Regions from separate parts of the Homo sapiens genome. Here region 1 is reported to be linked to region 2. The links are microRNA targets in miRTarBase. Many come from high-throughput screens and were not tested one by one. Region 2 holds a microRNA gene; the other region holds the end of a gene's coding sequence. Distances are between the middles of the regions.

What was found. Region 2 holds the annotated microRNA hsa-miR-302a-3p (UAAGUGCUUCCAUGUUUUGGUGA, at 1,500-1,522, opposite strand). A microRNA usually pairs through its seed, bases 2 to 8, with sites in the 3' UTR of a target mRNA and lowers its output. Matches are read on the target gene's strand: a 7mer-m8 pairs with bases 2 to 8, a 7mer-A1 pairs with bases 2 to 7 and ends in A, and an 8mer does both.
Region 1: miRTarBase lists SLAIN2 as a target of hsa-miR-302a-3p. Seed matches in the 3' UTR shown: 7mer-m8 at 697-703 and 7mer-A1 at 1,527-1,533.

The regions. Positions count from the first base shown.
Region 1 is chr4:48,421,543-48,426,085 of GRCh38, forward strand. SLAIN2 (SLAIN motif family member 2) reads left to right here. Exons shown (of 8, transcript NM_020846.2): 8 at 469-4,543. The coding sequence ends at 535. Among named protein-coding and RNA genes, the nearest start is that of SLC10A4, 60 kb to the right of the region's middle.
Region 2 is chr4:112,646,687-112,650,686 of GRCh38, forward strand. MIR302A (microRNA 302a) reads right to left here and starts at 1,565; the gene lies at 1,497-1,565. It overlaps LARP7 (La ribonucleoprotein 7, transcriptional regulator), which reads left to right. Exons shown (of 13, transcript NM_016648.4): 5 at 105-269; 6 at 348-441; 7 at 513-863; 8 at 1,004-1,148; 9 at 2,849-3,000; 10 at 3,775-3,896. MIR302CHG (miR-302/367 cluster host gene) reads right to left here and starts at 3,365. Exons shown (of 3, transcript NR_146092.1): 1 at 3,306-3,365; 2 at 1,827-1,913; 3 at 34-282. It overlaps MIR367 (microRNA 367), which reads right to left and starts at 1,255; the gene lies at 1,188-1,255. It also overlaps MIR302D, MIR302C and MIR302B. RefSeq lists an enhancer at 2,185-2,907.

The DNA.
Region 1 (4,543 bases), 64 Mb from region 2:
TTAATGGAATTAAGTAATTTGCCTAAGGCCACATAGCTAATAAAACTATGAGTTCCAAGTATGTCTGACTTTGGAGCTCTTTTAATCACTGTCCCATACTGCCTTTCTAGTGATGCTGACACTGAGCTTCTAATATCACATTCATCATTCTGCCTCTCAAAATAATAAGTAAATGATAAGGTTGGTTATCTGTGTGCTTGGAAAAGGTGAGACCATCTTTTCCTTTCTTTTATCTAGTAGCTATGTTAACAAAATGGGAAGTCATCTGGTGCCCAGTAAAACTTGGAAGTTGTGAAAATGCAGAGTGTGGGGAGGTTGTACTAGTACCTGTTTAGAGCTTAGGACTTGGTACGGCCTTCATGGGATCGTGATGCCACCTGAAGAGTAATTAATATATGTGTGAGATAGTATGGTACTATTTCATAAAGACATTTATCAAATTTTAATTACAAAATTGCTTTATTACAGATCCTTGCCAGCTCCTAAAACCTATGGTAGCATGAAAGATGACAGTTGGAAAGATGGCTGTTACTGACCAGCAAAGACAAGAATGCAGAAGTCCACGGCTTCATGGATACCCTTCACCAGGCTAAAAAACAACTTTTATATGCAGACTGTTCAGATAAGACTCTTGGGATTTATAAAATCCCAGCCCTCTCTGTCTTAATTAGCACAAACCGACAGAGATCATCAAACAGCACTTTAATGACATTTAACATCAGATGTGTTTGGTAATCATACAATCACTCTCCATAGAATCACTTTTAGTTTTGTTTAATAGAAACTAGGTTGATTTTTAAAAAATATTTGACAGAGGCCAATATCTGGGCAAATACCTAATGGATGCCAAAGAGAAATGCCCATTTGTAAATGAGAAAAATGCCCATTTGTGCACAAGAAAATGGTGAATTCAGGCTATCCAAAACTTCACATTCAACCTAATTTACTGTATAAATAGTATCAATAAATATTTGTGTTAATGAGAACTAATATTCTGACTAATTATCTAAAGTGTTTCACTAGTACACCAGGAAACTACAGATTGAGATTAGGGGGTGGGAGGAAAGAAACCTGGGCTAGAGATTAAAACATTCCTAAATTTAGCAGAATTTCAGAAATGATTTTTGCAGATTCATTAGAAAAGAAAAATTGTCATTTAATCTTAAGTTTTGGATGTAGCTCACATGTCACCACCACCAGATAGTGTTACAGCATGTATCCATCATGTTGCATTGACACATCAAACTTGTGTGTGTTTGTTTTGATTGCCAAAAGGGCTTAATATCAGTTGTACAATCTTTCTGAACTTTATAGTTCCTGGCTCAGGAAAGATGGCCTTTGCTATTGAAGCCAACTTCTTCACATGCTGTTATCTTTACAGAACTAAGAGATCTTGTTTCTATTAGCAGGTTTTCATGATAGGAAAGAACAAGTAGTGTGTGTCTTTATTCTTGATACAACACCACCTCGGTGCTTGCAACCTGGAACAAAACCATACCATGAGAGAGAGGGGGAAAAAAATCTATGCACTTAACCTACAAAATCTCTGGTGATGACAGTTGTATTGTTGCTATTACATGGCATAACGGTCTATTATGTGGTAGGAAAATATAGCCTGCTAAATCCTACTTAAGTTGATCCACTTTAAACTGAGTAACTGTATAAAACATCTATTGAAAATTCTTTTCCTTTTGACTTAGATTCTGCCTTACATCAATTTTTGCATTTTTGGTAAAAAAAAAACCCTACTACGTATGACTCTAACCTGATACTTGCTCTCTAATGGCTCTTAATATATCCTTGAAATCGGCTATTTCAATTTTATCAGACTTTTACCAGAGTAAAACTTGCTTCTGTAGCAGGCCTCTCATTTTTTATTATGAGGTCTGTTTTTAAATACTTAATTTGAACAGCTCTAAGATATTGTCACTTAGGTCATCTAAAAGCTTTTAGAGATTTGAACATAAGTTCATTTCCTGTTAATCAAAGACATTCCGTAAGTTGGCAAAAGAAATTGGGAGAGAGAAATAGAAGGCTTGATATTCTGGACAGCATTAAGGTTGATAGGTTGATGATAAAAACTTAAAACCAGGACCTCCATTCTGTCATGACTGACACCATGGTAGTCTGTCAGCTTGACCAGTGGAGAGTCATTCATTTAGCACAAGCAGCTGGAGATTTAAACTGCCAGTACTATGTATTTGGTGTATAATGCAAGGAAGAAACTTTATCCTTGAATTTGAGGGTGATGGGGTGGGTCAGGAAAGGATGGCGCCAGAATTCTACATGATAATGAACTAAAAAATGTTGCTTTTCAGAGGAAGATAAAGCATCTTCTTTTGGGAGGGGGGTATCTCATGTCTAAGTAAGTAAAAGAAAGAAGTAGCTACTGTCTCTTTTAAAAACCACGTACAAAACAGAACAAGTCTCAGTTTTCAGTGCAACATTTCAAAAAATATATATGCTGCAATCTAATAATTAAAAGGAATTTTACCTATTATGAAACATATTACATTTTTTAAGTTAGATAATCAGTTTCAAAAGGAGTATTCAGGTTATTTAACTTTGTTTTTAAATGGCTGCATCAGAAAAAAATGTCTATTTTTTTTTATTAAAATATTTCATCACTTGTTAAAACATATTTTTGATCTGAGTTTGGTAAAGTATTATTTTACCTGCTGTTGTACTACCACAGACTGTTGACTTTTAGTTTCTTAAAGAGAAAAATTGCCTTTTTACTAGAAAGCCTTTGTATATTGCAATTTTTCTGTTTGGGAAAATCTAAGGATTTACTGTGGTTAGTCTTACAGAAGAAATGTGGATTTGATAAACTAGTGCCTATGATTTTAACTTATGTTTGATATATAGTAGTAAGGGTTTTATGAATGTTGATTATTTTGTGCCAACAGCCCAGAATTGTCACTTATATGTAAGCAGAAAACAATGAGCTCTGCTTCCAAAGTTATTTAATTTTCTCAGTGTTTGAATGTTATTTTTTGTAAGTGTGTTAATAAAAGTGTAAAGAATTGGAAAAAATATAAATATTCTTAACTCAAGCATTTGCTGGATCATTTTTCTACAAAACTTGTTTGTACAATATAAAACACTCTCTGAAGAGTTGACTTTTTTTCAGTTTCGTATCCTGGAAATCACATTTTGTAAAACTGGGGACCATTCATAATTGTCAGATACTTTTTAAAATTATCTCAATACATCACTTTTATAAAAAAAAAAAGTTTTTTTGAAAGAAAATTAGATACATATGTGGCCCCAGATGTTTGTATAACTCTAGAATGATCTAGACTATGTATGTTTAAATTAACTTTTTATTGAATGTACAGGTGTCCATTTTTGACGTTAAGCATGGTCCTTTAAGGTCACATGACGTTTGATTTGCAAACATTTCTATAGCCGAACTTGTATATGTGGTTGCCTCCTTAATAAACAGCCTGACCATAATGTTTATTATTAAATTTATATTCTTTAAGTGTTTAATTAATCTCTGGATATGGTAAGATTCCTTTTTTCCTCTCAGTTGCCTACACTTGGTTTTAATAAATTACTCAGTTGAGTTTTTCTTTAACCACAGAAACCCAAATCATATTGCCCTTTCAGATTTAGTCTTCATGGGGTTGGATTATGTCTTATATTTTCTCTGTCAGAGTTATTTCATATATGGATTTTACTTGAAGGAAATTTACAGTTTACTCTAAATTGATTTGTTCTTGGAACTTTTTTACCTGCTGTGAATTGATACCTAGTTATAAAAAGCTAGCATTTGCCTAGATCATAACTATGTATGGTATCTAGTTAGAAAAAAACAAGCAAAAAGCTATTATGAGTTTCCAAGAGGGACAATTAATGCATTTTCATACCAAATGCGAATATTTAGGTGATCACGTGCATCTTTTCTTGTATGGATGGAAAAATCAAGAATTGTACACTGTTTAATGAGTTCTCCATATTCCTTTAGGAGATATTTGCTTTGCAATTACATGTTACAATTAGAATAATTACAATTAAAATAATATTACATGTTACAATTAGATTAATAGTGATGAGAGGGAAAAAAGACACCCTTCTGTTTTTTTCTCTCAAGCCAGTCTAAAAACTTGAAGAGCCATTTAAAATTAAATGTCACTATACTTGTATTATAAATCAATACATAAGTTTAAACCTGTTATATACTCAGTGCAACAGAAAAACCCATATGGAGGTTCAACCACTGATGTATTTTGAATGATCCTAAATATAAGTCTTGGGTGGCTAAATGGCCCTCTGCTTACCAGTCTGAAAATGAAACCGATTATACTCATCGGCCTTATTTACTGTAATACAAACTGGTTAAAACTATGTTAACTGAATGCTAGTTTGAAACAAATTATCTACATTAAGTCATCTTAATGTTTTCTCTTTAAAAGAAATAAAAAAATCTGTTTCTTCTGATTTCGAAAGTAATAGAAACTCTGCTGTAGAACATAAACTAAAAATATTAAAAAGTATAAAGGTAAAAAATGATAGTTGTCTGCAATCCCATAATCCG
Region 2 (4,000 bases):
CGGGTCCCCAGTCAGAAACTGGCACAGAAACAATATAATTAAGTTAAAAATTTATTGACATTCTGATTGTGAAAAACTCTAATATTGCTTTTAATTTATAATAGGAGTTACTTCCCAAAAATGTTAATCACAGCTGGATTGAAAGAGTATTTGGGAAATGTGGCAATGTTGTTTATATAAGTATACCACATTATAAGTCTACTGGAGATCCAAAGGGATTTGCGTTTGTGGAATTTGAAACAAAAGAACAAGCAGCAAAAGCAATTGAGGTAAGTCCAGATCCTAAAAAAAAAAAAAGAAAGAAAAGAAAACAAGTATTAAAATAGTAACTTTTGCAATCATTTCAGTTTCTTAACAACCCACCAGAAGAAGCACCAAGAAAACCTGGCATATTTCCTAAAACAGTGAAAAATAAGCCCATTCCAGCCTTAAGAGTTGTGGGTGAGTATTTTTCAATATTTAAATAGGTGTAGTTGAAGTAAGATGAACTAATAATGATGGCACTTTTACAGAAGAGAAGAAAAAGAAAAAGAAGAAGAAAGGCCGAATGAAAAAGGAAGACAATATCCAAGCCAAAGAAGAAAACATGGACACAAGCAACACCAGCATCAGTAAAATGAAAAGATCCAGACCCACATCTGAGGGCTCTGACATTGAGTCCACTGAACCCCAAAAGCAGTGCTCAAAGAAAAAGAAAAAACGGGACAGAGTTGAAGCATCTAGCTTACCTGAAGTCAGAACAGGGAAGAGGAAGAGAAGCAGCTCTGAAGATGCAGAATCCCTAGCTCCCCGATCAAAAGTAAAGAAAATTATTCAGAAAGACATCATTAAGGAAGCATCAGAAGCTTCCAAGGAAAATAGAGGTAAAACTACAAGGTTTTAATTAGATAAAACTAATTAATTTTAATTAATTAGTTTTTAATTAATTAGGTTTTAATTGGCTTCTGTTTCACCCATTTCACAGCCCCATGTCTTAACGGAGAGCTTTTTTATTTATTTCAAGATATAGAAATCTCTACTGAAGAGGAAAAGGATACTGGAGATCTAAAAGATAGCTCTCTCTTGAAAACAAAAAGGAAACATAAGAAAAAACATAAAGAGAGACATAAAATGGGAGAAGAAGTTATACCATTAAGAGTGCTATCAAAGTAAGTCTGTGGTTTAAATTCTGTCATTGGCTTAACAATCCATCACCATTGCTAAAGTGCAATTCCAATTTATATTCAACAGAGTTGCATATTAGCAACAGTAATGGCCTGTAGCCAAGAACTGCACACAGTGTGGGCGTTAACGCAATTGCTGATTAGGTAGGAACCACCACACTCAAACATGGAAGCACTTATTTTTGTCATGTCACAGCAAGTGCCTCCATGTTAAAGTAGAGGGGGCCCCTTAACAGATGTAAAAATACAAAATAAAGCTTAAATATATGAGCTGCGGTCAATACAATAAAGTTATTTTCTAAAAAAATAATAAAAATGTAAAAGGAAGACTTACCATCACCAAAACATGGAAGCACTTACTTCTTTAGTTTCAAAGCAAGTACATCCACGTTTAAGTGGTGGGGAGCCCAGTCTTGGAAAAAGTTAGAATCCTTTAACCTGTAACAAGCTTAGTAACCTTAAAACACAATAACAAAAAAATTTTGTAACAAAAGGTGTGCTGGCTTGGAGACACCTCCACTGAAACATGGAAGCACTTACTTTTGTTTCACACAGCAGGTACCCCCATGTTAAAGCAAAGGGGATCCCTTCAAATGAGGTTAGCGTGTTCTATTTTGGAGAAGTAAATTGGATTCACTCCTACTAAAACATGGAAGCACTTACTTTTAAAGTCACAGAAAGCACTTCCATGTTAAAGTTGAAGGGAGCCCACCCAACATACAACTTCTTTGGACTTCAGAGTATTTAGAGCTGAGGAGAAAGAAAACAAAATGGCATAACTTTAGAAGAAAAAAATTTTTTTACCTTCCTGAACTAGTTCCCAAAGATTCGTGTTCTCCTCCAGAAGGGTAAAAGGCAGGGACTTCAGCCACTTCTATTTATACTATTCTTAACTCTTGAATTCCTTTTGCCTTTTTATCTCAGAGAATCATTACAAGGGCCTTTTGTTATTTTAATGTATCAGCTCTCAGGGAATGTATGATCCTGGGTGGGTCTGGATCCTTTTTTTTTTTTTTGAAGTATACAGATGTCAATGTTAACAGCTAAAACCATTACCACAAGATATCTTCCTCTTAAAAAAAAAAAAGAAAAAGAAAAAGAAAATCTCCTATCTGCTTGTTTGATGGCATAGATTAGGGTAACAATGAGTGCTCCCACTGAGCCGAGAAAGGCATTGTGTTTCTATCTGGAGGAACTCTGTTTGAAGAAGCATCTACATGTTAAATGTATGTAAATAAATAGATTGCTTCCACGGGGTGTTTTGTTCTACTTAGAAATTCTTTTTGATTCAAGTAAATACTAAGGAATGTTATCTCTCAAATTGGAAGCAGTTTAACAAATCTTTAATCTCGCCCTTTTCCCACAGAGATGACTGATTTAGTAAATGTTACTAGTTAAGGAATTAATGCTAAAATTTTACTTTTATAAATTAAAATACTTCAGACACTCAAAAATTTAATTGGCAATCTTAAAACATTTAATCTGAATATTGGGGGAAGAGGAACTCCCTTAGCTTATTTTGCTAAATGTCTTTAGAACCTAGGAAATATTTTGAATATGTGTTTAAAGAAACAGGAAAGTTGGTGGAGGAGTTGCTCCAAGTCATTGTGAATGTATATATTTAGATATTTCCCTATTTACTTTTTATATTTAGTCATCTGTTATCACCATTTCTTTCCTTGTAGGAGCGAATGGATGGATTTGAAAAAAGAGTATTTAGCGCTACAAAAAGCTAGCATGGCTTCTTTAAAAAAAACAATATCCCAAATAAAATCAGAGTCAGAAATGGAAACAGACAGTGGAGTACCTCAAAACACTGGAATGAAAAATGAAAAAAGTAAAGATCACTGATAGTTTTGACAACATTATAATGTACTTATATATGTAAATGCTATCTCTGAGTTGTTATAAGATAAATTTTAATTTTAAAAAACTTGATTATTCTATTTCATTATTAGAACAATTCTTGATTTGTTAAGTTATCCAGATGTGTTACTTACTCTTGATATAAGAATATTTAAAAGGCTCATTTAAAACAATTTTTTAAATAACCTGAGTTTTCTCTACAGTTTTCATCAAGCACATGAGTGCAGAGTTTGCAGACTGAGCAAGTTTGTAGGAATGAAGATTGTAGTTTCTCACCTGTTAATTTCATTCTGTAGTATGCACCACAAGCAGGAACAAGTTAAAGCAGAATTCCTATGAATTCAAAATTAGGATACATTTTAAATTCTCATTTCTTGTAAAAATAAATGTTCACGTTTGAATAATAATGTATTTAAAACACAGTATCCTTTAACTTTTTTTTAACTTTATTGAGTAAAAATTTACTGTTCCTTTGTTCAGGGAGAAGGGGCAAATTTAAAGGCTTTACGAATGCTCTTCTAGCAGTAACAATTTGCATGTAGAATAATAAAACTTTCTGAGTTTTATTCATGGTATTTTGAAATAAGCAGTATGACATATAACCTTTAATTGTTTACTTTAAAATTAAATACGTTTTAAATTATTTAAATCTGCCTCAGGAATTATTCTAAGGTAGTCCTCCTAAGTATTAAATTGTTGTTAAGTGTAAGAGATTTAGTCCTGGTCTTTTTCCTTTTCTAATCAGCAGCCAACAGGGAAGAGTGTCGCACCCAGGAGAAAGTTAATGCAACAGGACCACAGTTCGTGAGTGGAGTGATTGTGAAGATCATTAGCACAGAGCCTCTACCTGGCAGGAAACAAGTCCGGGTAATGATTTTGAGCCCCTAGGGTATTTGTTCCTTTCTTCTCTTATTATTTCCCTGTGTGAAAATGTTTTGAATATGGAAGATAAAACAAATCAAGTTAGAATT